Regions from separate parts of the Homo sapiens genome. Here all the other regions are reported to be linked to region 4. The links are microRNA targets in miRTarBase. Many come from high-throughput screens and were not tested one by one. Region 4 holds a microRNA gene; each other region holds the end of a gene's coding sequence.

Region 1 (3,992 bases), not on the chromosome of region 4:
AGTCTTAAGTGCTTATTTTAAGAAAAAAAGAAAGTTAGAAAATCAATAAGCTAGGTATTCTATTTAAGAAGTTAGGAAAATAACAATGAGATAGAAGCAAGGAGAACAGTAGATAAATAATAAGTGCAGAAATGCATAAAACATAAATCATTCTCAATCAGGATTAGCTCATAATACTCTCAGAATTAAAAAGTGGAAAGATTATTTCTGGAAAGGGTAAGAGAAGGCCAGTCATATACATACCTATATATATTTTCTATTTTAACTCCTTAAATGAATTTTACAGAAAGAATTAGAGGACCATTGCTTTTTAAATGACATTTATTTTTTCTAATAATTCAAGTACATAACACATTTTCAAAGGGAAATTTGAAAATACTGAACAATGTAAAGAAAAGAGATAGAACTTATAGTCCTATCATTAGGAGATAATTATTAAGTATTAACTTGTGCGTACTTATGCTTTCTTTTTTCAGCCTATAGCATCTGGTCTCCCATCCAAGTAATAACCTGGATCAATCCTGCTTAAGTTTCCAATATTAGGCATTTTCAGGGTGTTGTGACCACAGATGATGTAACTATTAACTTTTAAATATTTTTCTGGTCTTTACATATCTCAAGGTTTATACATGTCTACATGTAATTATATGGTTACTTAATTAAAAATTTGGGCTCAAACTGCATACATATATTTGGTTTTTGAGTTTTTTTTCCTTTTTACTTTGAATTCACGAGGATATAAAACACATATTCAGCTTTTTTTGTATTCAGCTTTTTTTTACTTAAAATTGCATGATTAGCATATACTCTTCAAATATAGAATATTTGGTGGCTGTGTTAAAATTTAATTTTCCTGATAGAGGTATCATGCTGCATTTGGCTGTACCCCTGATGTGTCCAATGCTGTGGTGGAGTCATTCAGCAAACATCTATTAACAGTCCATTCAACGTACGGTGCCATGCTGAATCTAAACAAGAGATAGACAGTCTGAAAGTATATAACAAACTGATGAAGTGGACCTTCCAGAAGTCTGTTTACAAGAGGGCTGAGGAGACTTTGAGAGAATTTTTAACAAGATGGTCCTAGATATGACTAGCTTATGGACTTGATAGAGAAATCCTGGGCTGTCAGAGGGGAGAGGTCACTCTGAGTACAACATGGTGTCTGTAGCTTGGGTTTGCCTCTTGGTCCAAGTCCTTCAGACCTCATATTTAAGTTCTTTGGAAAGTAGAGTGTTATTGAATGAAGCTCTGTAAAACTCTGGAGCCTAAGCATCTTTGTCTTAGCATCCCTCCAACCCAACATCTAGAAAAGGGAGACTTCATTTGGATCGTTTTAGTTGCAATAAACAGAGCTGCACTGATTTAGTCGGGGGTTTACTGAAATGATCAGCACAGTGACAAAGAAGAAAGACTATCTAGGAATCCAAGAACAGAAACCAGGCCTAGGGTACACTGTTCATTGTGGGCAAAGGCAGTTTTAGGAGCTTTTGGAGTAGAAGTTCATGTATCTTCCTTTTAATATGATACCATTATTAACATGAACCAGATACTCTCTGAATGTTGGCTTCCTTCTTCATCCTTTAATCATTTTTTGATGGTAATGGTCCGGTTGCTTCATTCTTGGCTTCCTAGTTCAAATTCTTATGCTTGAATAACCACCAGTCTTGTTTGGACAGTGTTTTACTCCAGGCTAAGTCAGAGGCCATTAGCAAGACAATAGGCTGCCCATGACTCTGGGGCCTGCCCCAGTTCAGTCAGCTGGGCCCAGAGCATGAAGGTCATGCGGTGTATAACATGGCTTGCTTTCAAGATGCTTGTTTCAGCAAAGGCTGTGAACAAGGCTTAAAGGGGGCTGTTGGCACAGCAGGCATCAAGGAGAAAGATATTCTCTTCCGTATCCCCCCAGCCTACTCCCTGGCTTTGGCACAGAGCAGGTGTTGACAGACCATTGTTGACAGTGTCCATGGAGGAGACAAATGGGGAAATGGCAGAAGTGTTGAGGCCCAGTGCACCTGTGATGGAAGCAGTGCTCAGCAGGGTAACTACAGGAAGCAGAAAACCTGGTATGAGCATTCAACACTGAGTGCCTACTGGCTTCACTGTGTGCTGGGTCCTATGCATGGTGGGAAATATATAAGATGTGGCTACTGTCCCCGAGGAAGACATGGCATGTATAGGTGGAAAATTTGTAAGTGTTCTACTTTTTAATTACTTTAAAAATAAATATAGGTACTGGTAACTCCCCCTGACACAGGTATTGACTGGTCAGTGGTCATTTTCTCTTGCCCATTGAGCATGTTCCCTAGCTGCTCACTTATTTTAAGGCTACCTCTTCTAGTCCATCACACTCACCCTCAGGAGTCAGAAAGGAAGAGCAAGAGTTTAGATTGTATAAGTTTATATAAAACTCTTTTTGGCTCATCTATATCACTACTTTCCTCATTGAATGTTGATGGAAGTGTCATTTCATGATGTTTGCAAATAATGTTGAGGAATGTGGAAAGAGCATATGCCTTAAAGTTTGGAAAAATAAAAAAATTTTAATAGTGAAAATATGAGTTTAGAAAATATTTATAGTAAAACATATTCAATAAAGAAATCTTGGAAAATATAGAAAAGTGGGAAGAAGGGTCATCAATGCCCCAAACCAAGCATAATTGGCATTTTGTTATATTTCCTTTTAGATTTAGTTTTCATCCTAAACTTTGACTATTAGTGTTTCATTTGCTTTAAATAGTTATATAGTAAACATGAATTTGTAACCTGCTTTTTGATGTAGCATTATTCATAATTTTAAAAACATCATTTGTAATGACTGTAATTTTACAACCATGTAGTACTCTTTATTTTTTATTTAATTTTTTTTTTAATATCAGAAAACATTTACAGTATGTACCACTCTTTACTTAATCCTTCCTCTGAGTTTAGAATTTTGGGGTGTTTCCAATTTTCCAGAATATTAAATAATGTTGCAATATACATATTTGCATAAAGGTTTCTCTCATATTCTTATTTACTTCCCTAGTACAGATTCTTGGAAATGGATTTGTTTGATCAAAGGGCAGAAGTATTTCTGAAGTTTCTGATGCATATTACTTAAAAAACATACTAAATGGAAGGGTGGTATACTTGCATGTGCAGTGAGGACTGCAAATTTTTTACAAATAAACACCAAATGCAGAAAGCACCATCATTTCAATATTGCCCTCAAGTCTACACAGTTGATATAATATTTAGATAGATGGCCATGTCTTGATAATGGAAAACATTTTGTCCTTATTCAAATGATTCCAGGCTATAGGAAAAAAGGAAAAACAAAGTGATTAAAGTTATAAACTTGGCTTGATTAGTAATCCGTAATCCAGATAGCAACTTAAACTTATATTTCATATTCAAAATATGATAGAACAGAAAAAACATCTCTTAGAAATTGCTAGGAAAGGTATTACACATTCTGTTGTTAAACAAAATACAAGCCATCTAAATTCATAATTTTTCTTCACTCTGGACTTCTTGATAGCAGTTTCAACCATAACTAAATTAACATTAGTATTTTAGCAGACGAAGTAGAAGTAGTTTCAATGGGATAAATACATATTTCCCTTCTTCTTCAAAAGCACTCCTATGCACTCGAGATAAAGGTTCATTAGTTGAATGTAGCAGCATTCAGAAGAGAAGTTATTTCAATGAGATAAGGTTCTGAGCCTTTGCTTAACTTATGAACAGGGAAATTCTTGATAAATGGTAAAATTTCATCATGCTTTGAGTTATCTCTATGTAGAACACTAAAACTTTGCTCATTCAAAACACTTATGAAGCCTTACCATACAACAAGAAATGCAGATTTTACAATTACTGAGTTGATTCAACCCTTATAGATAAGCCAAGACACATTGGGATATCAGAAAAAATTGAGATATTAGAGCTTGAATAAAGATGAGGGCAATAGAAATGGGGGGAAAGTGATGGAATTCTAGAGTCTTTTCAAA
Region 2 (3,992 bases), not on the chromosome of region 4:
GGAAGCCAGAGAAAAAGGTAGAATGGACAAGTGACACTGTGGACAATGAACACATGGGCCGCCGCTCATCCAAATGTGAGTAATTGTTGGCCCGCAGTAGCCCTGGAGTTCTGGCTCCCTTCAGCATATCTTGTATCTACTCATATCCACTGGCTTTCCAGAAGCCCCCAGATGTTCATAGTTCTGTCACTTTTTTGGTGGTGCTGTGGTATCAGGGAAAGAGGTAGGGAAGGGCTAGAACTGGAATTGCCTAGGTCTGACAGCAAGAAGTGTCAGAGGTGGGAGAAGTGGGGCTTTGAATTCGTGGCTCTCTAAGAGGACAAGAGGGGTGGGGCCTGAGTCCCAGAGGGTGGGCCTGGGGAAGCTGGATCCTGGAAGGTAGGAGAAAATAGGAATTTTCACTGAGTTTGAGTGGGAATGGAACTGACTATATATCTTACCCTTCCTCCTCTTTAACTGGGCTCCTCCCTCTAAATCTAGGCTGCTGTATTTATGAGAAACCTCGGGCCTTTGGCGAGAGCTCCACGGAAAGTGATGAGGAGGAAGAAGAGGGCTGTGGTCATACACACTGTGTACGTGGCCACCGCAAAGGACGGCGTCGTGCAACCCTAGGACCGACCCCCACCACCCCTCCCCAGCCTCCTGACCCTTCCCAGCCCCCTCCAGGGCCAATGCAGCACTAAATCCCTCTCTCCTCCAGCATTCCTGTGTCTGTCTGGCCCTAAATGTATCCATGTGGCTACTTCTCCAGCCCCCTCCTTCCCTCTCTTCTGCCTGATAGAGGGAAGAGGAAGAGGAGGACGAACAGAGATCCTGAAATTCTGACTTGCTGCTATTCCAGAACCCAGCCTCCTGGGTTTCCCCAGTCCTCATTTTTCCTCCCAATACCCACCCTTCTCTCTCGAGGGATCTAGGCACCTTGGTCCCAGTGTCTTCCTTTTGTTCTCACTGCCAAACTGCCTGTCCTGGGATCTAGTTATCTTGGCCCTGCACTCTCAACATGAGTAGCGAACACTTAAATTGGGTTTTCAACAGTCCCAGCTTTCACTGCCAGGGTCCCAGTCAGATTCCAGGAATTTGCGCCCTAACTTTGCTTGCTAATCCTGGTTTAGAGCTATCCCACTAAAATATTTAATCCTAATTCTTAGTCCTTGCCTGTGAGATATGAGGTCTTACAGGAGACCTCAGAGCTCCCAGCCCTTCTCCTCCTGCTAACCCTTCTCACACCCTCAAGAGGAGTTAGAAAAGAGGTCCTTGTCATTCTCACCTCTTATGGAAAATGGAATAAGAAATAATCATATCCTTTCTTCCCACCCTTCTCCTGTTATTTAGGATTTCTGACAAAGCTGGCTTGAGATTGGTCACTTAGAGCCGACTGTCTCCTCTGCCTTTTGTTTTTCAGCTTCAGAGACAGATCCAATATAGTCCCAGGGACCTGGGTCTCTGGGAGAGGAAGGAAGAGGGAGGGAGCAAAGAGATTGGGGTATGTCCCCTGTAGTACACTCTTACCTCTTACTTCCTAGACTTTGATTTCTCCGGCAGCCCAGATGTTCAGTTCTCTTGGCCCCTCTCTACCCCTTACTGGGATCCGGTTTTCATTTTCCGGTCCTTTTGCCATACACAGTTACAGAGATCAGTCAAATCCATACCACCACTGAGATCTCATTTATTGCCACAGATGCACAAAATAAATAACCCAAAATCACAAAATGTGTTAAATATGGGCCCATTTATACTTATGGGGAAGGGTGTGAGACTATACACAAGGATGAGTTTGGAGATGTCTGAAGTATTCCCAGGTTGAGGAGGAGAGAGGGGAAATAGCACCATTGGTTCCTTTCCGTGAGTATGTGCGGGGAGAAGTTTCAAGAAGGTTCTTATGGAAAAAAGGCTGTGAGCATAGAAAGCAGTCATAGGAGGTTGGGGAACTAGCTTGTCCCTCCCCACCCCCAGATCCTGCAAAAGAGGTACAAAGCTTCCCAGAGGGCCACAGGGCCCAGACCAGAGTCAAGCCTCTTGTTTTAGGAGAAACCTCAGTGGACAGGCAGGGTAGCCCAGTCCTTAGATCTGTGGGGAAGGCCCTGAGCCCTTCTGGAGCTAGGAGTGGCAAGAGTGGGAGTCAAGTATTTGACCAGCAGAGCCTCTATGTAGGAATCATGGTCACTTTACCAATACTGATGGGGAGGGCCTGTTCCCCATTGCAGGCCTAGAATGGTTTGAATGGGAGAAGTCAGGAAGTACTGTAGTAGCTGTAGGGGAGAGAAGATTCTGAGAGCCAGAAGGCAGGAATGGATTTGGTTTTGAGCAGGGACGTGGAAACGTGGAGACCAGGTGAGGTCTCATTATTTTGGGGCGAAAATGTGGGTTGCTATTAATACTCCTGCAATGGGCGTGTGAATGTGTTCCCAGAAATGAGTGGGGAATTCCACCCCCAAAAAGCAGCTGCAGGGCCAGTGGCCGGGCCAAACTTCTAGTTGGAGACGAGACTCAGCTTTCCGCTGGTACAATGCGGAGCGGAGCACGAGGGTCGCAGGTGCAGAACAGCGGGAAGATGCGCTCCCCCAGGGGGCCAGGCGCCTGGAAGGCGTAAAGCAGGTCGAGTGAGCGGCCGTCGTAGAAGGCCACGCGGCCCCGCTCCCAGTCCAGGTCCACGCGAATGCGCCGCGGCGGGGGCTCAACACCGCCCAGCAGGGTGGGTTCGGGTGCCGTGAGGGCCCACAGGCGGCCGCCGCGGCCCTCCACGGCCCACACGGCCCCCGCAGGGCACAGCCTTACGCAGCCCTTGCGTTGCACTGATTCCCCGGCCGCGCCCACTGCATAGTGGCTCTCCTCGTCGTCCGCATCCTCCCCAGAAGAGTCTCTGCAGGAGGCGGCGTCCGCAGTCTCCACCTCCCAGCAGTGGCGGCCGGCCCCGAAGCCCTGCGCACCCAGCACAGCTGGGAGCTGATCGAAGCGCTTGGGGCCGTCAGGGGGCGCGGGCGTCCCTGGTGGGGCCAGTTGTACGCTGCGGCGGTCGGCGGAGATGAGCAGGCGGCGGTGTGCGGTCCCAGGGTCCAGGGTCAGGTCGGCTGGAGACGGGGAGGCAGGGAGAGGACCTCATGAGAGAGTTTTCTAAATCACAGGCGGGGTAGGGTGGAGAATAGTCAACGAAGATCACGTAAAAGACTGAGAGCTAGTGACCACACAACAGCTCAAAAGGCGACTGCAGGACCAAAAAGAAGGAAGGCATATGAAGAGCAGACCTGGGCAATATCAGACCTTGTACTGATGCACCACTTCTGTAGAATTGGACCTGGGGAAGGATCATACTGGCCCAGTGCAGGGAGCACAGCAGGAAGATCAAATGAGAGGTTGTCTCGTTTGTGGGGTTGGGGGAGGAAGAGTGAGGCTGATCTGACTTCGAGGGAGGAGTAAGGACTGATACCTCAATCTGCATCATCTGGGGTGGGGCATGGGAGCTGGGTCAGCAAAATGGGGAAGGTTCATCTAAAGAGAAAGTCGTACTGATACTGGAACCTCAAGTAATGGGAGGGGCACAGGGAGGAATCCAAGGTATCCTGAGAAACCAGCCCACCCACCCACAGGAATTGGGGGGTGGGGTGGACAGTCCTATTTCTGTAGGGGTTGTGGGGCAGAGGAGGAGAGCAGGTGGTGATAGCCAGAGACCAGAAAAAGAACCATTGGCCTTATATGTATGGGGTGCTTTGAAGAAAAATTTCTGGATTAGGGGTGTCAGAAGCAATCTGGACTGGGCAAGATGGTGGATGACCAAGATGGTGGACCACCTTCTCTAGGCAGTTTAAAGAAGGGTAGAGGCACCCTTCTTCTTGGGAGTGAGTGAGGAAAGAAGGGTCAAGGAGATGCTGGGGTCCCCTTCCAGGGAGGAGTGACGAGAGGTGGTGGAAGCAGAGATTTTTGAGAGGCACCTAACCTTCAGGGATCTGTTGTTTGAATGTATGAAAAAGGAAGAGGGAAAATGGCTGGAATATGAG
Region 3 (3,992 bases), not on the chromosome of region 4:
GTGGGGAAAGCGGGAGTGGAACTTGGCTGCTCTGGGGAAGGAGTAGTCAAGAAAGCCAGTTCCAGGGGTCACAAGGCAAGGTTTCCGCTGCGCAGCCACAAGGTCTTGTCTCCAGCTCCTGGGGCAGGTGGAGTACACGGGCCGGGCTTTACCAGCACGCACCCTGCACGGGTAGCAGAGAAAGCTGCCTTCAGTCAGACTCACCGGTTAACTGGGTTGAGACCGCGGGGCACTGGAGGGAAGGGGACACAGCCGTCTCTGCTGAGGGTCAACCCTGCAAGTGGCTAGGAGTCAGTGTCTCGTCATCCTGGGAGAGGTCTCCCGGCCATGGAGAATGAGTTCTGTAGGTACCAAGGCTGAGAAGCGGGCACCACACAAGCCAGGCCCCAGGCTCAGGGAGGGGCTGTGTCTACCAGCCCCAACAGAGCAGTTGGCCCCAGGCTACCAAGGATACCGTGGGAGGAGGACAGGGCCATCTGAGGAGGGCATCCCCCGCCTAGGAGATCAGCCCCGTCTCTGGGGTCTCCGCCTGGCTGACCCCCGCCCCATCCCAATCCACCCCCCAATAGGCTTCACCACGGCAGCATACCTGCGCATCCACGCGGTGAAGGACCACGGGCTCCAGGCCCCGCGGGCTGACCGCATCCTGTGCAAGCTGTGCAGCGTGCACTGCAAGACCCCTGCCCAGCTGGCCGGCCACATGCAGACCCATCTGGGGGGGGCCGCCCCCCCTGTCCCGGGAGACGCCCCCCAGCCACAGCCCACCTGCTGAGGGGGACCCCCGCACCCACCAGGCAAGGCGTGGGGCATGGCTGGGGGGCGGGATGGGGGGTGTGGGGGACAACGGGGCTCAAAGGGCCCAATAGGGGATCTCAGGAAGGCGAGGGATGCCCATGTACCACTCAGGCTAGGGAGACTTCTGGGCACAGGGAGGATCCTTGAGAACTGCTCTGTCTGGGTGAGGATGCAGGCTGAGGCCTCTGGGGTCCAGATAGGAAGTGAGCAACGGCTGTGTCCCAGGGGAAGCAGGCTGGGAAGGTGTGGGGTGAGGGCAAGGCTCTTGCCATTCAGATCGCGCTGTGATCCGTGGTGTTTCTCCTGTGCAGGTACTGGTGAGGTTTGTCCAATGGCGGCGGCAGCGGCAGCGGCGGCAGCGGCAGCAGCGGCAGCAGTAGCAGCCCCTCCCACAGCTGTGGGCTCCCTCTCGGGGGCGGAGGGGGTGCCTGTGAGCTCTCAGCCACTTCCCTCCCAACCCTGGTGAGCTCCAAGTTGGTTGCGGGGGAGAGGGGAGAATGGAGTAGAGTCCCTTGGTACAAGCTCCTCTCCCCCCTCTTTTCCCACCAACTCCTATTTCCCTACCAACCAAGGAGCCTCCAGAAGGAAAGGAGGAAGAAATGTTTTCTTAGGGGAATTCGCTAGGTTTTAACGATTTGTTTCTCCTGCTCCTCTTCTGTCAGACCTGACCCCACACAAACCTGTCCCCTCGGTTGTGTTGAAGTCCCCTGGACAGTGGGCAGGGGTGGCAGAGGACACGAGCAGCCACTGCCCGTACCCCCTCTCCTCTCTGTAAGCCCATGCCCTGTCTTCCCAGGGACTTGTGAGCCTCTTCCCTCGACGGTCCTCTTCTCTCCTTCCAGTCCTCTCCCCCTGCTGTCTGCAGCCCCTCCCCGGGGAGTTGGTGCTTTCTTTTCCTTTTTTTTTTTTTTCCAGGGGGAGGGAGGAGAGGAAGGAGGGGGATCAGAGCTGTCCCAAAGAGGGAAAGCGGTGAGGTTTGAGGAGGGGCAGAAGCAGGGCCGGCAAAGGTTGTACCTTCATAAGGTGGTATGGGGGGTTGGGGTCAGGCCCTGAACATCGTCCTACTTGAGAATCTGTCAGGGGAAAAAGTCAAGGGGAGCAGGAGGAAGAGCCAGGAGGGCCAGAGGCAGAGAAGAGATGGAGTCTTAGGGGCCAGGGTGAGCGAGGGGTCCAGGGCCTAGAGGTGCTTCCTGGGGGCGGGGGAATGCAGCCAGTGTCCCCCTCCCCTCTTCCACCCCAGCTCCAGCCCTGGTCTTGTCTTTTCATCCCTCTTCCCCACGACAGAAGAAGTTGTGGCCCTGGCCATGTCATCGTGTTCCTGTGTCCCCTGCATGTACCCCACCCTCCACCCCTTCCTTTTGCGCGGACCCCATTACAATAAATTTTAAATAAAATCCTGTTTCTGGCTCTGGATTGAATGAATTGCCCTCACTAAGAACTGCCGCCAACCCCAAGGGTTTCTTCTCGGCCTGGTGTCCGTCAATCCAGCCTTGCTCTGCCCTGTGAGGCTGTGAGGTTCTGGCTCCGCCCTCCCCAGGGGCAGCCTTACTGGCGGCAGCACAGATACAGGGCGGGGCCAAGGCTGTGGCTGTGGAGAGCAAGTTCCAGGTCTCTGGGGAATTCCCAACTCGGACAGGCCCAGAATAGCCCCTGGAGGTTTGAAGAGGCCCCGTCAGAAACCCAAACAGAGCTGCCAGACGGGAATGCCGCCCTCCCCCGTCCACACTCATGGCCGCTGCTCAGCCCCCAGCCGCATCCCTCCCCACGCGCGTCACGGCCCTGAGGCCATGGTGGGTGGATGCGGCTGCGGAAAGGCTGGGGAGTCCGAGCCCTAGGACTGGGAGCAGCGAGGTAGAGAATGAAAGCTGCACCTGTCCCTCATCCTGGGCATGGGCCACTCTGTGTTTACACGGGCTCCTCTGCCCAGCTCCTCCTGCCCCTTGGAATTCCCTTTCCTGTCCCCGCTCCGTCCTTTCCAGGGCCCCTTTTTTGAGCCTTCCAGCGCCAGTTTCTGCCGCTCCTTTCTGCAGGCTCCATTCTCTCCAAACCCCACCCTGCTCCTCCTCTGCAGCCTCCCCGCGTCTTGCCCCATCTTCCTTGCCCTCCTGCTCGTAGAGACGCCTCCACCCGGTCCTGCCTGTCTCACTGGTCCCGTCTCCTCGCAGAACCCTCTCCGTTTCCCCCAAATCCCCGTCTCTTCCAGGAATCCCGGTGACCGTTGGCGGGAGGGGCCGGGGACTTAAGAAGGAGGCGTCTCTCCTGGAGGCGCGCGTGAGAAGGGGCAGGGAGGGGGCGCGAGTGGTCCCCGGGCCGGTTGCCTGGGTAACGCGTGGCTCCCTTGGGCTGGCGGGAGGGGCCGGAGGCTCGCGAGGGGCGGGGGCGGCGACGGCGGCGGAGCGTAGGGGAGGGGACCGGAGAGGAGGGGATGAGCACACGGGAGAGGAGAAGAGGGAGACCCGCCGCCTCCCTCCCTCCCTAGCTGACTTGCTCCCTCCCGGGCTGCGGCTGCTGCAAAAGCCAGCAGCGGCAGCGGGAGCTGTCCGGAGGCCGGCGTCGAGGTGAGACCCGGGCAGACTGAGGCTGCGGGTAGGAGTGGACCGACCGACGGCTGACGCCGGGCGGACTGCACGGGAATGCGGGTGTCTGGAGGGCTGGTGGTGGTGCTGGGCGGGCTGAACCATCGGGAGGAGGCGCCAGCCCACCGAAGGCGAGGGAAGCCCCGGGAGAGGGGCTGACAGGGGATCGAAGGAGATAACCAGGTCCCCCAGAAAGGGGCGGGAGCGTCCTCGCCCTAAACGCGCAGCAAGAAAACCCGCACCGCCTGGGAGCCCAGGGAGGAGGGGAGGATGCAGAGGGAGTGGAATGCGAATGTCGGGTCCTCTGCCCAGTCGGCCTGTCGGAGTGCTATTTGCACAGCTCGTTGATTTTGGGGTGCTGGGATCTGAGAGTCTGGATCTTGTTGGATGGACCCAGGGAGAGACCCTGGAGAAGGTCCTGTTTACAAAAGGGTTAATCTTCCCCAGGGCTCTCCAAGCAGAAGACTTTGAGTAGAGCACTCCTCCCGCAGGGATGTCCCACCCTAAGGCAAAGGAAACCCCAACTTTTCTTCCTCTCCCTAGAGGCAGTGCAAGGCTGGCCCTGAGACAGGAATGTGGCCCAATTGGGCCTGCAGTGCTGAGCGCCCTCTTCCCTCCTCA
Region 4 (3,992 bases):
TTCAAGGGATGAGGACTAAAGAGAACCAAGAATTTAAAGATGTAGGGAGGAAAAACCACTTCTAATAAATCGAAAGGCTCTTTCATTATGCAGAAATGAAAATAAAAGGATCCTTATTGTCAGGAATACATCCTGGCTGTGACCCCCCACACTCAAAGGAGCTGTGGCCGCTGGGGAGGCAGCGGGCTGACCATCTTCTTTCAAAGCAGGGGAACTGCTTGCGGGCACTCACCTCCAGAGTTGACTTGCATCCAATACAACTGATGCAGCTGTCATGATTAACCCTAGGTCGATTTCATCCTTAGGTCAGGGGATCCTTTCTATAATGGTCCTTGATGCATTTCCTAAGAGTTACAGGGAGGAGATGGATGCTAACGGCTCTATCTCTAGAATTCACAATCTTTCCAGCAGGCCAGGGCACATCTTCTTTCTTGGACCAGCATCCACACTCCAAAACCTTCTAGACAGCACTCACTCAAAACTTCCAATATTCACAATATTATACAATAAATACAGCGATGTGATTCTGTGAGACCTGGCAAGGCCCAAAGTGACAGTGTCCAACAAGATGGCCTGTGCTGCTCATGAACAAAGTACCACTGGACAAAGACCTATTTGGGGCAAAGATGCAGTGGGTGAGCCTGGAGGCAGCTCAGCCCTGGCATACACACTTACATGGGGTGATGGGGAGTGCTGGGTGGGGCTGGCCAGAGGGGCAGAAGGACCCCCCTGGAGTCTCCATCTGGACTTGAGTGTCTGGGTCACTAAAGCAGACCCCAAATTGAGCAGAGCACCTCAGTCCACTCTTTTGAAAATGGGTGTGGCCCTTTCCCTTGTCCTACGTCACTGCAGGGAGGAAGGGCCATTTCTGAGCATTTTGTGCTCCTTTTTTGTGGGGTAGGCTTGAATCATGTGCTTTCCTCTCAACCAGAGTCTCGGAGGAGGCCCCCACCTGAGCATTGTCCCCCATCTCTGGGTGTCTTCTCACCCCCTGCGGCTGGGATGCACCCAGCTAGGCTCTGTGAACTAAGGTCGGGATGAACCCTTAAGTCTCCTGCTCCCGAGGAGGCCTCAGATGAAAACTGTCAGACCAGGGCCCAAAGAGACAGACGGCAGATAGGGAGGTATGGGAGGGGCAGGGGAACCACTGTGGGCTTTTCCTCAGAAAAACCAAGACCGGGAGCAAGTTCTAAAGCAGGAAGATGAACACATAAAGCTCCCTGTGTGTCTCACGTGTTTGGGCAATTGGCCCAGCCACCTCTATGTGGAGGGAGGCCTGCTGGGGCTGCCTCTGGAGCAACTCCAGCTCGAGGCTGGAGGGCAGGGCTGGCCACAGGCTTGTCTGTGGAGGCGCTCTGCTGAAAGCACGAGCGCTCTGTGTGGCCGAGGTCATTGTACCCCCGGCTTCCTGCTGGGTGGTTCTGTGATGGGGAACCAGCTGGGGCCTTATGGCATTAGAATCTGGTGGCCATGAGGGACAATGTCCAAGAAGATCAAATTAGACACAAACTGTCTGGGAACTAAACTATCCTACAAATAGACCACAAACAGGCAGCAAAAGAACCAACCCATCACGAAACGTACAAAGACAAAAGGTTAAGTCTTCCAGGAGGCCCTGGAATGTGGACGAAAGTTTGGAAAAGCAAAATGTTGCCAACTCCTCACGCAGGGCCCTGGAGGGACGGGCCGCAGTGGTGGCTTCCCAAGCCAGCAGAGTGGGTGCCTCAGTGACAGCCTAATTCTGGGGCTCCCTCCCATCAGCCACTGAGGGGGTCTTCACGGTAGTGAATGGCACAACGAAGTTTCTCCAGCATGATTTCCAGAGAGGAGTACTGGGGAAGCTTGATCATGAACATGCAGGTCTCCACGCGGATGTAGCGAGAGTCTGGGGAACCTACAAGAAACCGAGCCAGCATCAGAGGGTTGGGCCCACATCTGTGAGGCTCCCAGGGAAGCTGGGCTGGCCTCTGCTTCCAGGTTTGCCTCCTTGGGTAGCCCCAAGCCAATCCTGGGGCCCAGCAGGAGGGGGATGAGGGCCTGGGAACCTGCGAGATGTTCTTGGAGGGAAAAGGGGAGAGAGCTGCTGGACAGCGCATGTGCCAAACTGCTGATGGGTTTGTCTGCCCAGCAAATTGTTTCTTTTTTTTTTTTTTTAACCATTTTTCTGCATTTAAAAGTTAGAAGATTTGAAGCATTCTGGATTTTCAGCTTCTTTTAAGATATGAGAAAGTATCTAACAGCAGGCCTGTATGGCTGGTTCCTGCCGGGCCCTAATCCTCAATGATGTCTGAGTTTTGGCACGTGGGGCTCCTGTTCATTGTTCTCCCTTCACATGGGGCCTGGCAGCCCCAGTTCCAAACAGAGAAAGGCTAGTGTGTCCCTACTTGGGACATGGCCAGGGGAGGGCGGTACCTGCTGTGCCATCTGGGGGGGCGATCTTCATGGGGTACGGGGGCACATGGGCAGTGTCGGGACCCCCATCTTTGCAGGGGCAGGTGAACGGGATGCGCTCCTGGTTGCAGGCAAACTTGATGAACTTGCACAGCTCCTCCTGGGTGAACATCTCCAGGGCCCCCCAGAAGAACTCGATGTGCTGGTCCGTCTCCATCAGCCCCACTTGGTACATGGTGTGGGCCTGGGGAGGAGAGGTCCAGGTGTCAGGAGCCCTGGAGCCCCACCTACCCAGTGCCTCCCCAGCCCTGGGGTCTGCAGGCCAGGCCCAATCCTGGGGCAGGGTGCAACGTGTGGGCTGTGAGCACAGGGAGATGACAATGATGACAATGATACAGGTCTGTGGCAAGGACAGAGCTGAGACAGGCCACTGCCGATGCCTGCTGCTGGAGTTGAGGGTGACAGGGAGGCACGCCTGGGGCTCACCACCTCCCCGCCCAGCCTGGCCCTGGGATGTCTACCTTGAGGAACTCGAGGTTGATGTAGGGGAGGCCGCAGGTGCGCAGCTCCATCTCCAGTGGGCTGAGCATGGTCAGCAGCTGCAGGGGGATGATGGAGCCCAGGCCGGCCCGCACGGCCGTCACGCACTCCACATTCTGCAGCTCCCGCAGCCGCAGGCTCCGGATGGCTGCCGCGTAGATGTCCTTGTTCTCCCACCTGCCCGGGTGAGGAGCACAGGTGAGGGAGAACACCGCCGAAGAGGCTGGGTCTGGGGGCCACACCCACTCAGCTGGAGGTCCCGGATCCTCTCTTGGGAGAGGCCTGGGGCCCAGCCGCCCTGGTCATCCCAGTCCTTTCCTGCCTCTGGTGCCGCCGCCTCAGAGCTGCTGTTTTCTTAGTAAACCCCTTCTGCTGAGGACCCTCTTTCTTGGCACCCACCATCCTGCCTCATCTCCCTCTCCTGGTGAAATCCACCTGTCACCTGACCTAGGTCCTCGTGTCATTGCCCAGGAACAGATGCTGCTGTCATACCCTGGCTGGCTGGCCGGGCCAGCCCCTGCCAGCCCCTGACACGCGCACACACTCACGCCACAAGGATGTGCCGGCCCCGGCTGCACAGCTCCACCTCCTCGCCCGTCATGGTCAGGTAGGTGAACCTGCAGCAGGGCTTGTTGGGGCTGTCAGGGCTCTCCGTGGCCAGGTGCTGGGAGGCGATCTCAGCGCACAGGGCCTCCAGCTCGGTCTCATCATTGATCTGGAGGGTGGAGGCAGAGCGAGGCTCATTATGAGGCCATGGGAGGTGGAACCCTGATCCCCAGGTGGCTGGGTAAACCCCAAGCGCAGCTGGTGGGGTCTACCCTCGGCCGTGTAGATGAGCATGTGACACAGCTTTCGCCAATCAGAACCTGCCATCAGTTCAGGGCCGGGCGTGTGACCCAGGCCAGGCTAAAGAGACCCACATTCCAGGCCTCTTCCCACGTCTGTTTGGAGGCAGCGATCCTCTCTCACTGGCATGGACCGACTATGATGGGAAACCCTTTACCACTGGAGGCCACCTCTGCCCGTGCGCTGGGAGAGACTGCTTGAGGCTAATTATGCTT

What was found. Region 4 holds the annotated microRNA hsa-miR-6861-3p (UGGACCUCUCCUCCCCAG, at 2,636-2,653, opposite strand). A microRNA usually pairs through its seed, bases 2 to 8, with sites in the 3' UTR of a target mRNA and lowers its output. Matches are read on the target gene's strand: a 7mer-m8 pairs with bases 2 to 8, a 7mer-A1 pairs with bases 2 to 7 and ends in A, and an 8mer does both.
Region 1: the mRNA of TM4SF18 is a reported target of hsa-miR-6861-3p. Seed matches in the 3' UTR shown: 7mer-A1 at 1,016-1,022.
Region 2: the mRNA of PPP1R11 is a reported target of hsa-miR-6861-3p. Seed matches in the 3' UTR shown: 7mer-m8 at 1,248-1,254.
Region 3: miRTarBase lists MAZ as a target of hsa-miR-6861-3p. The part of its 3' UTR that is shown has no 7-base or 8-base seed match.

Annotation. Positions count from the first base shown.
Region 1 is chr3:149,318,195-149,322,186 of GRCh38, forward strand. It overlaps TM4SF18 (transmembrane 4 L six family member 18), which reads right to left. Exons shown (of 6, transcript NM_138786.4): 6 at 304-3,298. The coding sequence ends at 3,284. All of the region lies in intron 1 of TM4SF18-AS1 (TM4SF18 antisense RNA 1), which reads left to right. Among named protein-coding and RNA genes, the nearest start is that of TM4SF18, 13 kb to the right of the region's middle.
Region 2 is chr6:30,068,624-30,072,615 of GRCh38, forward strand. It overlaps PPP1R11 (protein phosphatase 1 regulatory inhibitor subunit 11), which reads left to right. Exons shown (of 3, transcript NM_021959.3): 2 at 1-75; 3 at 481-1,710. The coding sequence ends at 683. It overlaps RNF39 (ring finger protein 39), which reads right to left. Exons shown (of 4, transcript NM_025236.4): 4 at 1,647-3,068. The coding sequence ends at 2,488. Among named protein-coding and RNA genes, the nearest start is that of PPP1R11, 3.4 kb to the left of the region's middle.
Region 3 is chr16:29,808,971-29,812,962 of GRCh38, forward strand. MAZ (MYC associated zinc finger protein) reads left to right here. Exons shown (of 5, transcript NM_002383.4): 5 at 1,107-2,194. The coding sequence ends at 1,261. It overlaps PRRT2 (proline rich transmembrane protein 2), which reads left to right and starts at 3,223. Exons shown (of 4, transcript NM_145239.3): 1 at 3,223-3,353. It overlaps MVP-DT (MVP divergent transcript), which reads right to left. Exons shown (of 4, transcript NR_186424.1): 3 at 1,065-1,203; 4 at 1-163. RefSeq lists silencers at 2,596-2,675, 3,076-3,225.
Region 4 is chr12:112,160,630-112,164,621 of GRCh38, forward strand. MIR6861 (microRNA 6861) reads right to left here and starts at 2,692; the gene lies at 2,629-2,692. It overlaps HECTD4 (HECT domain E3 ubiquitin protein ligase 4), which reads right to left. Exons shown (of 76, transcript NM_001388303.1): 73 at 3,480-3,646; 74 at 2,913-3,108; 75 at 2,413-2,635; 76 at 1-1,894. The coding sequence ends at 1,758.